Linked DNA regions of Homo sapiens: region 1 is linked to region 2. The links come from fine-mapping of genetic effects on gene expression. A gene starts in region 2. The other region holds a variant in brackets. All regions are shown on one strand. Distances are between the middles of the regions. Region 1 overlaps NEPRO-AS1 (NEPRO antisense RNA 1). Region 2 holds the start of NEPRO-AS1 (NEPRO antisense RNA 1).

Region 1 (5,383 bases), 75 kb after region 2:
AGAAAGAAAGAAAGAGGGAAAAGAGAGAGGGAGGGAGGAAGGAAGGAACAAAAGAAGGAAGGAAAGATACAAAAGAGAAGAAAAAAGTAAGTTTGTATAATAGATCTGATTCTCTCCTCCTCTATTATACACATTCAAGAGTGTGGTGTGGAAAAAAATAGAAATTTACACTTGACAAACAGCTTTGCTATCTCTAGTAATGAATTCATTTACTGTTTCCAAGCACCTATGACACTCATTTACCAAAAAGGAAAAATACAAGGGTCATAGATATAAATGTTTATTTTTTTCCTTATATGTAGAAACAAAATATTTACTAATGAAATTCTTGCTTCTTTTTTCTTGAGATGGAGTCTCACTCTGTCACCCAGGCTGGAGTGCAGTTGCACGATCTCGGTTCACTGCAACCCCCACCTCCCGGGTTCAAGCAATTCTCCTGCCTCAGCCTCCTAAGTAGCTGGGATTACAGGAGCATGCCACCACGCCCGGCTAATTTGTGTATTTTTACTAGAGACGGGTTTTCACCATGTTGGCCAGGATGGTCTCCATCTCTTGACCTCCTGATCTGCCTGCCTCGGCCTCTCAAAGTGCTGGGATTACAGGCATGAGCCCCGCACCCGGCCCTTGCTTCTTTAATTGAGGTTAGAGTCAATCCATCTTTACCAAGCTCTCCATTTCTCGCCATGATGGTGAGGTAATGTCCTTCTTCTCAGTGTGTAGGTGGACTAGCAAAATGGCATTACCTGGGAGCTTGTTAGAAATGCAGCATCTCAGAACCTTTCCCAGAATCAGCATTTTAACAAGTTTTCCAGGTAATTCAAATACACATTAAAGTTTGAAAAGCACTAAAGTAAGGCAGATGTAATAATAAGACAGCATTGGAAATTCATCTCAGATGGCATTATATGAAGCCTCATGATTCTGTCAGAATCTTAAAGCACTATGTGGGTGGTGATGGGGTGACAATATAAAGTAGCTGCAGTTTGCAGACCTGAGTCCTGCTCTGGGCAGTGTCCTCCCGATAAAGCCCCAGACTTCAAGAAATACATGCCTGCTGCCTGAAATACATGCCTACCGCCTTACCCTTGGGCTGAGGAAATCTCTCTGAGAGTCACATTCCACCCACTACCCCCCTCACTTGTTTCCATCATATTACTCTCTTCCTGGGACTCCTCTGCCTTCCTATAGATGTCTGGATGAGACGATGGAAGTGTCTCACTGCTTCTGCCCTTGACTCCCCTACACACCCTGCCCTAGGCCATGCCCCAGGAGACAAAGGAACTGGAACTGTGTATAACCCCGGGGCTAATTGCCCCAGATGGTGTTTTCCTCTGTGTCATCCTCTATTACCTTTACTCTGTCTTTTTTTTTTTTTTTTTTTTTTTTTTTGAGATGGAGTTTCACTCTTGTTGCCCAGGCTGGAGTGCAATGGCACAATCTTGGCTCACCGCAACCTCCGCCTCGTGGGTTCAAGTGATTCTCCTGCGTCAGCTTCCCGAGTAGCTGGGATTACAGGCATGCACCACCATGCCTGGCTAATTTTGTATTTTTAGTAGAGACAGGGTTTCTCCATGTTGGTCAGGCTGGTCTCGAACTCCTGACCTCAGGTGATCCGCCCACCTCAGCCTCCCAAGGTGCTGGGATTACATGCATAAGCCACCGTGCCTGGCCTACTCTGTCATCTTTCTTAAACCCATCTAGAGAAATATAATCGCTTTAAGCATTGTATTTGCTATTGTCTATTAGATCTGTCATTTTCCCATCAGGTTTTTTCTAAGTGTATCTTTGTTTTGAATCTTAAGGAAGGCTTGGTACTTAAAGGTAGCAGACCAGAAACAGGCAAACCATTTTGGTGTGATGCTGGGTTCTCCTTAACCATGAGAACAACCAATAGCATCACATTTTTAAAACTTTATTCAGTCATTCATTTTCAATACATGTTATTGAGCTCCTATTTGTCCATGGAGTGCAACAAAACTCTTATTCCGTGGAGTGCAACAACAACAAAAAAATTGTCCTTATGAAGACTCATTCTAATGGAAGAAGCAGTCAATAAACACATAAACATATAGCTAAATAATACTATTTCAGATAATGTGTTAGGCTATGAAAAGAATATAATAATGGGAAAGAACAACTGGGTATAAATTGTGACCCTTTACCTTGAGAAGTCAGGGAGGAACTGTGTTTTGTGTCATTTGAGCTCAGATATAAATGATTAGATGGAGGCAACTATTCAAATATCTAGGACAGGTGTTTCAGGCAGTGATGACAGCAAGAGCAAAGGTCCTGAGGCAGATCCTGTTATGATAAACACTTGGGGTGAGTAAGGAAGGGGAGAGAGGGAGAAAAGATGACTAAAACAAGCACTTGGCCTCAAGTCTCTGGGAGTCAGTGGAATGATCTAGGCATGATAGGAGGAAGAGGGAGAAAATATTGGAAAGTAGAGAAGAGAGAGCAAGAGGTAAAGGAAAGAAATCAGAAAGACATAAGAGTGGTAGGAGATGGCCAACTACAATTCACTGCCCAAGCCACTGGCCAGCACGAGTGCAGCGGGCTCCCTACTGGGAGTCTGTGACCAAAGAGAGTGTGTTTCTTCTTTGGAGGGAGGAGAGCTGCAGAAGGAAAATATACTAATAAGCTAGAGGCAAAGCAGGCCCTTAGTAACAAGAAATCTTCTGAAGAGAGAACTTAGGAATCAGATTCTAGCAAAGATATAAGCTGGAATTTTCAAGCTCTGTTATTTTCAGAGGTTATAAGGACATCTCAGAGCCTCCTACTCTGAGAGTTCTCACAGTCCTGGGCAGCATTCACACAA[A/G]CAGGTCGGTGTATGAATATATGAGGGTATGTGTATATCCTGTGTGTTGAGATCGTTGGGGGTGCCTGGGCAGAGGAAAAGAAGAAGGGAAGGCCATTAAAAGCCTTGCTGAGAAAGGTATTTCTTGTGGACAAAAAAGAATCAGGCCCCTCGCTCCCTACTGAGCCCATTTCTCCTGCCTTTACCCGAGCTGTCAGGCATGAATCCCTGTAGCATTCCGTAACTAATTGATAGTAATGGGGGCCATTGGGAGTCTAAGAATACGTGGCATTACCCGGCATGCATTGGAAAGAAGGGGGGCTGCCTCAGGGGCAGCTGTGGAGAAAATAAAGGCTGCATTTTCAACTTTTTTTTTTCCTTAATTGAAGGTAGGAGGTAGAAGTAGGGAGGAGCAGATTTAGGCAAACCTCTCCTCTAGCTTAAAAATAAAAAAAATTGCAAATCTCATTTCTTATCCTGAGCTAATATCCCAGGATACTATGTCTGCCACACAGAAGAAACAGATGGAATTTCAATTAACCCCAGGGCCCCCTGTGAAATCTATATTGTACCCTCTGGATTTACAACACATTGTTAATATATGACTGCAGGCTCTGGAGATTCCATCACAAATCAACCCCCTTTATTCCAGAGGTTCAGAAAACTACTACAAAAGCCCACTTCAGAATCAAAAGTGGACAGTTTCTTACAACTTCATCTTCAGAGTTGAAACCCAATTTTAATTTTATAACAGTTTATTTACTGAGCAGTCCCCATGTTTTTATAAGAGAAAACATTTATTTTTTTTCCTTCTATGAATGATGATAATGACAGACTAAAACTATTTATGCCAAAAAGAAAATTGGGAAAAGATACACCATTACCACACCTTGATGAATGATTCACCATAAACTCACAGTCAATTATCATCCAAAGGATTTTTATATTTAAAAAAATTATGCCTTTATAGAATGTAGTCTTTAATACTAAAGATATTTGAAATCAAAATAAAAGCAGTTACTTTTCCTATTAATATCACATGAAGTTGTAAATTTTGCAATAATGTTAAGAATTCCAAGTGGTTTTTCAAAGTCAGGATTGTTTATAAACCTATGGTTCTGACTTTTATGTCTTTTATTATTGGCCTCACCTTTCTGAATTTATTCTTCATTTCAAAAATAATATTTGCATAAGTCTTCAACTTCTCACACCCACAAAAACTTTCAAAATTAATTTTGACCTTTCGATATTATGGAAAAATTTTCTGTGCATTTTTCTTACAAGACTACTTTTCCCTAAAATTATACGTCAACTCAAATCTTGCATCACCTTCTGCAGAGATGAATTGTCCACATTCAGTAGTACAGACTCCTTTTCTCTCCAGGTTGCTGTTGTGTTATCCAGCTTATTTTACGAAAAATTTGCCTCTGAACCCCTGGGGACTATCTCTAGGAAATTAGATCAGCAAACTTCCTGTATTTTGAGAAAAATAACTTTGGAGAATTGAAATGTGTCTTTTTAAGGGATTGCAATATGATGTGAAGGCTCCTCCTCATTCCAAGGTAACCATGAGGGACTGAGGACATAGGCTGCCCTCAGAAATACAATCTATTAGACTCAGAGATGTTGAGAGCTGGGCAGAGTAAAAAGAGCCATCATTCAGACAGCTAAGATATTGTTTGTCCCCACTTTGCCATTTCATGAAGGTAAATAAGGCAGTCACTGGAATGTTCCTCTCCAAATTGTCAGAACAGAGGAGTTTTCCAGCCTGATTTTCTTTCCTCCACCAAATGCACAGCCTCGCAGGACCACTGGGGAAACTTCTTTCTCCCTGTGTCTACCATTGTATAGCTAGGCCAGCAGGGGCCATGACACAGTGAGAGCTTGTCAAATCAAACAGAGCTTGGTTGTGGCACAGGGACTGGGGGCCACCAAGGAGGTTCAAAGAAATGGTAGATTTGTTCTTCAGGCAGGTTAGGAACATTGGCTCAGAGGCTGGAAGAAGTTTCTTCTAGTGGAACAAGCTCCTCTTATTTTTAACGAAGTTGGTTTATACCCTTAAACCACCCTTAAATCAGAAAAAAAGTGGTGATTTTAAATAGGCTGAACATTTGCCTGCTTTGGACATCTTAATATCAGGCAATCAGAGGTCATTTTGATGCAATCATTGAGGTTTATTTCCTCATCTGAACAAAAACATGGATTTGTTATTAAACCCAGACTAGCATTCATTTAACCTGTCTCATTTCCATCTTAGATATCATTTATTCTGGAAAGAAAAAATATGTGGTCACTTAAAAATAATATACAAACCACATGTTAAGATTGACTGAGTTTTTGTTTGCTTTTTTAACCTTTTGTGTGTGCTTATTATATATAAATAATAGAAGTCGATTCTTCTATAATACTTTCTATGTGCCAGGCACTATTCTAAATGCTTTATGTGCAATAATTATCTAATAATCACAATAGTCATCTAATAATCACAATACTGTATGAGGTATTATTATCGCCTTTTTCCAAAGAGAGAATATTAATGACACAGTATTTGGAATATGTTTGCTTCTTAGCCTTTAGAGGTTATGG
Region 2 (5,383 bases):
CATAATAAGTAGACAAGTTTTTTTAAAAATAATTTTAGCATTCTGATTATGCCCAGGGAACTGTTTCTTAATGTCCAACATTTTGTCTTGCTCAAATCACTTTATCTTTGAGCTGGGCAAAGGCACTGTTGTTATAGATTGTATATAATGAAGAAAATGTTTACTTGCCTATTAGAAACAAGACTGGGAAAGAATCTAAACATACTTCTTTTCTAACAAAAATTACTTTTTGAAATGCTGAAATGCTTTTAGGAAAAAAAAAGAAAGTGCACATGTAACTGTGGGCTATAGGCCTATAAAACACAAGTAATTTACTGAGATTTCCACGAGATTTCCATAAATAGCAATATAGTAAGTGGCAGTGTGATCTACATTTTCAAGTGAACAGGTTGGGTCTCACCTACCGGGCTTCCTCACCTGTTTGAGGGCCAAATGGGGTTTGTGGCGGCCCATTCTGTTGTGATTGCTGTAAAGGACTGCACATAACACATCTGTTTCTGCATCTAAGGTTTGGCTCTTCAGCGACAGTATGACGAGATGGCATTCTTTAATTACAGCTGCAATGCAAAGGTCTGAAGCAGAGACATCTAATAAGATTTAGTATGTATTTCTACAGTAAGTATATTATATTAAAAACACACTAAAAAAAGCATCTTTCCTTATTTGTTTTAAAGGAATCAAAAACTAATGTAATCAGTCTCAACTGTAAGAACGTAAGGATTCTAAGTATAAGAGAAGTTGGAAAATGGTAACAGATGATATAAAGTCCAGGAAATCATTAAGAGAACATCTGTAAAACAAGAAGCTGTATCTTTGCATTGCATTTTATCATGGTTTAATAATCTTTCATATGAATACTTTGCTGTCAGTCATTTGGTGTACACTTACGCCTCATGTGTACACTTAACCCCCACCTTGAAGGTAGGGCACATGTCACAACATGTGTAATAACTCTCTAACTCCCCATGTCGCTATGCCCGAAAGCAAGACAGAATGAATAAATTCACAGTCTTCAAAATCAAGGCTTCTGTGTTTGGATATCACTTTATGAGAGACACAAACATATTCAGAAAAGAAAAACCACCACAGTAACTGGAAATCGTATTATTTGATGAACACCGGGTGCTCATCAGCAGATGCTTCCTAGTCTGAAAATCTGTAGAAGTCCCTAAGATGTAGTTCATGTGTTATTTATGGCTCTAAAGGCAGCACTAGCATTCTAAATGGAAGTAAAGGCTGGTTGCTACCTAACAAGAATTTTCTTACTGTCCCAACAACTACCTGAAGACAGAATGGGCTGCCTCGGGGATGGGTAGTGAGTTGGTGAATTTCCCAGGCCTAATAGGAGTTGTTAAAGAATTTTTGAATAGAGAAAGAGGGAAGATTAATCTGTAAAGTGTGTAGGAAGGATAGATGGGATAATCTGTAAAGTGTGTAGGATGGATATATGGGAAAGGGGATGTGATGATCTAAGTCAAGCTTGTCCAACCCGCCTTATTTTGTTGTTCTGTTCTGTTTTGTTTTAGGCTTTTTGCAGCTTAAAGCCATGGTTTTTAGTTTGTCTCTAGTGAAAAGAGGGATGAGGAAAGGGCTTTACCAGCCCAACCGGAAACAAAGAACCCATGACTGTATTCTCTCCCTTGGGCCCCGGAGCTACGTATTTAATATTCATAACAGCTTCCATTTGAGTGTTCATTTACCATGCCAGGCAGTGTTCCAAATGCTTTCTCTACATTATCAACTCTTTCATCCCCCCAAACAGCCCTATGAGGAAGGTGCTTTTATCTCCATTTGAAAGTGAGATCAGTGAGGCACAGAAAGGTTCAATGACTCCTTCAAGCTCCAGCAAAGGGTAGAGCTAGTATTCAAACCCAAACAACCTGGCTCCTGCGCCAGGCTCCTACCTACTATATGCCCTTCACCCTAACAAATACCACCCATTTAGGTGGCAAAACACCGTCGTTTACAGCGCACTGTCTCCTAAATTACATCATTAGATATTCCCAACGCCCCTGTGAGGAGTAGGAGGACTAACTCCATTTCACAGATAAGCAGATAGAGGTCCGAAAAGATTGCAGTTTGAGTCCCAGTGCTTAGGTGACGTCCACCGCTCCTCGGGTACAGGAAAAAGAAGGAAAGGGGAAATGGACGGAAGGGTAAACAAGACTCCGAAGACCCGGGTGAGCAAGGGTTCCCAGGCAGCACTGTTCCCCGGCACCAGCTGAGTCCACCTCTCTCCGCCCCCTCAGCGCACGGCTGAGCCTTGGTCTTTCATCTCTCCAGCCAAGCCCTGGGTTAGCACAGCTGGTTCAATGAAGGAATGCGAAGCCAGAGGCCCTACAAGCTACACCAGCAAAGTGCTGGGACCGCTCGACCCCTACGTGCCCCGCGCCCCTTCCCAGCGTCCCCCGGGCCGGGAAGTCCCGGTACCACCCCCGCCCACATGCGCCGGCTGGGCCTGGCGGCCTCCCCCGGAAACGTTCCCCCATCCTCGCCCGGCGCCTCACTCACCAAGGGCCGCGCCGGGGTTCTGCACTGTCACTGCGCTGCGGTTCCCCGCCTTAGGGATTCTCACACGGTTCCACGGCTCCAGGCCCGGCGGCACCGCAGCCATCATGCGAGGCGGGGGGACTTACGAAAGGCGGAGCTACGCGAGAGCACGTCCAGCGACCGGAGGTGGGGCGATGGGACCCAGTCCGGGCCGGAAGGGAGCAGGGGGTGGGGCTCGGGCGGGGCCAGGAGCCCGGCGGGAGGCTGCCTTCATCGAGTAAACGCGTGGGACTGGGAAGGACCCAGTCATCTGTATATTGGTTACCAACACGTGGCCGCGTAGAATCATGGGGGAAAAAAGGCCCCATCCCAATACTAACCAACAGAATCTCTGAGAATGCGATGAGGAATCTGCGTTTTGTTTAAACTTAGCGCAGGGGATTCGGAAGCACAACCAAGTTTGGAACTGTTAAATACTTCTAGGCATTTTACAAATATGGAAAATGAGGCCCAGAATTGAGTTGGTGCTTTTACCCCCAACTCTGCCTCAGACATTAGGGGAAAAAGGAAGAAATGAAATGAAGAGGTTTGTGCAAGGTGTGGAATTTGTAGCGAAGAAGCAGTGATTTGCTTTGAGTGGTAAAGGAAGGCTCCTTTATGTCTTGAACCACAGCAAAACCGAGATCACATCAAAGAAACTTGGAAGACACCTGTCAGTCATTCCCACTTTTGTCAGTCTCCAAGACAAGATCATATTCCAAGCTCTAGTGATCCTTACCTCATTAATATCTTTCTAATAATTCATTTATCCTCAGCCATGCTAATGCCCCCTTAAGTTCTTAACACTCCCACAGTAACGTATTAGAAAAACAGTGAGTTTTGGAAACAGACTGCCAAGGTTCTAGTTCTAGCTTTGCTGTTTACTAGCTCGGTGATCTCAGGAAATTTACTTACCTCCTCCTCCAGACCTTAGTATCCCTGTGGGTAAAATGAAGATGATAATAATAGTATCAATCTCACAGACTTGTAAAATGCCAAGGCACTCCTGGCATACAAACAATGAACATTTACCATAGTTAATATTGTTGATGTTATTACTACTATTTCATGCAAGCAGTCTTACTTTATTGAAACACTTTCCATGCTCTTTCTGTGCGCCTTTACACATCTACCTACTCTACCTGGGTCATCCTCGGAAACACAATCTCCTTTCCTCAGCTCTGGGGTCGTCACTTGGGGTAATTCTTCCTAAACACCCCGTCCTCACTCCATAACTTGATACAGAGGCCCCTTTAATGTGTTACCACAGTGCCCTATGTTGGCCTATGTATTAGTTTTCTATTGCTGCTGTAACCAATTACGACAAACCTAATGGCTTGAAATAAGTAGAAGTTATTTTACATTTCTGGAGGTCAGAAGTCCAAAATTAATTTCAATGGACTGAAGTTGGCAGGGCTGGTTCCTTCCGGAATCTCTAGGGAAGAATTCATTTCCTTTCCTTTTCCAGCTTCTAGAGGCTGCCTTCATTCCTTGGCTCATTTCACTATCCTCCACCTTCATTGTCAGCATGACATTTTTCAGTCTCCTCCTCTTCCTCTGTCTCTCTCACCCTCCTGCCTGCCTCCCTCTTAAAAACACCCTTGTGATTACATTGAGCCCATCAAGATAATCAGGATAGTCACTCCATCTCAGAATCTTTAACTTAATCACATCTGTTTTAGAACTCCAAATTCAGGCTCATGTACCCGATGGGCAGCTGATGCCAAATATTGAGATACTGGTGCTTGGAGACAGAGAAATATTTATTCGATTTGACCAAAGTTAGAGGGCAAGAGAGCAAGATCTCTCAGATCCACAGTAACAAAAAAGAAGCAGGGAGTTTTTATGGAGCTAGAGAGTAATGGAGAGGGAGTTTCAAGGAATCCAAGGGAAAAGTCTGTGTTTCTTCCATTTCAGGTAACACCTTGTGCAGCCGTATGTACATGGCAGCTGGTTGCAATGTCCTTCCAGGAATTCATTCCTTCTGCAAACTATTCTTATGACCCTGAAGTTATCTCCTTCTGCTTGACAAAGAAACAGTACATCAGCAGTTTATAATTACATTGTGGGAACAAGGAATACTGGGCAAAAAGCGAGTGGTTAACATGTACAAGCAAGCAAGGGCCTGTTCAAAATTTTCATTATTTCATGCACACACACACACACACACACACACAAAAATGCTGGGGTGCTGAAATCTCAAGCAGCTGAAATCTCAAGGTTATATAGCTACAAAATCCCTTCTCAGTGCAAGGTAACATATTTACAGATTATGGAAATTAGCATGTGAACATCTTTGGGTGGGAGGTGGAGGGATCTTTATTCAGCCTACCACAGCCTCTCTCACAGAATTTACCTCGCTTTATTGTATTTCTTTGTTTACTTTCATGTCTATTTCTCCAATGGCATATGAACCTACTGAAAGCGAGAACTACCATTGACATAGCTAACTGGTCTTTCTATCTCAATGCTTAGTTCAGAGCCTGGCATATAGTAGGGCCTCAGTAGATATTTACTGGCTGTATATGAGGTTGGATGATGCTTGAATAGAGTCTTTTGAAGGATGAATAGGAACTCCCCAGGCAGTTAAAGGAAAAAGGATATTCCTACAGAGAGGTTTTAAGCAGCATGGGTTTGAAGAATCACTAGTCCTGAGTTGGTACTGCTGGGACGTGATTTGTGCTGAGGGGTGGAGCTGGGAATAGTGGTGTCAGTCAGATCATGGGAAGAATTTGGCTTTTTACCTGAAGACCAGTAGTTCAGAAACCTGGCTGATTATCAAAATTGCCTGGATAACTTAAAAATAGAGATTTTCAGGTCCCACTTGAAAATTCTTACTCATTAGTTCTGAGTA

The links. PIP is the estimated chance that this variant, and not a neighbour inherited with it, causes the effect. A credible set is the group of variants that fine-mapping cannot tell apart.
Region 1: its variant is the best candidate, but not a certain one, in a credible set for the expression of NEPRO-AS1 in whole blood (INTERVAL, PIP 0.80).

Annotation. Positions count from the first base shown.
Region 1 is chr3:113,091,710-113,097,092 of GRCh38, forward strand. The region is part of intron 1 of NEPRO-AS1 (NEPRO antisense RNA 1); the gene reads left to right. The region is part of intron 1 of LOLI1 (lncRNA oncogene in liver cancer 1); the gene reads right to left. Among named protein-coding and RNA genes, the nearest start is that of LOLI1, 10 kb to the right of the region's middle. RefSeq lists an enhancer at 938-5,383. The variant A/G (reference allele first, on the strand shown) is at 2,819.
Region 2 is chr3:113,017,031-113,022,413 of GRCh38, forward strand. NEPRO-AS1 (NEPRO antisense RNA 1) reads left to right here and starts at 2,488. Exons shown (of 3, transcript NR_186663.1): 1 at 2,488-2,676. It overlaps RMP64 (ribonuclease MRP subunit p64), which reads right to left and starts at 2,641. Exons shown (of 9, transcript NM_015412.4): 1 at 2,512-2,641; 2 at 418-572. The coding sequence starts at 2,617. RefSeq lists an enhancer at 2,090-2,159 and a silencer at 2,320-2,429.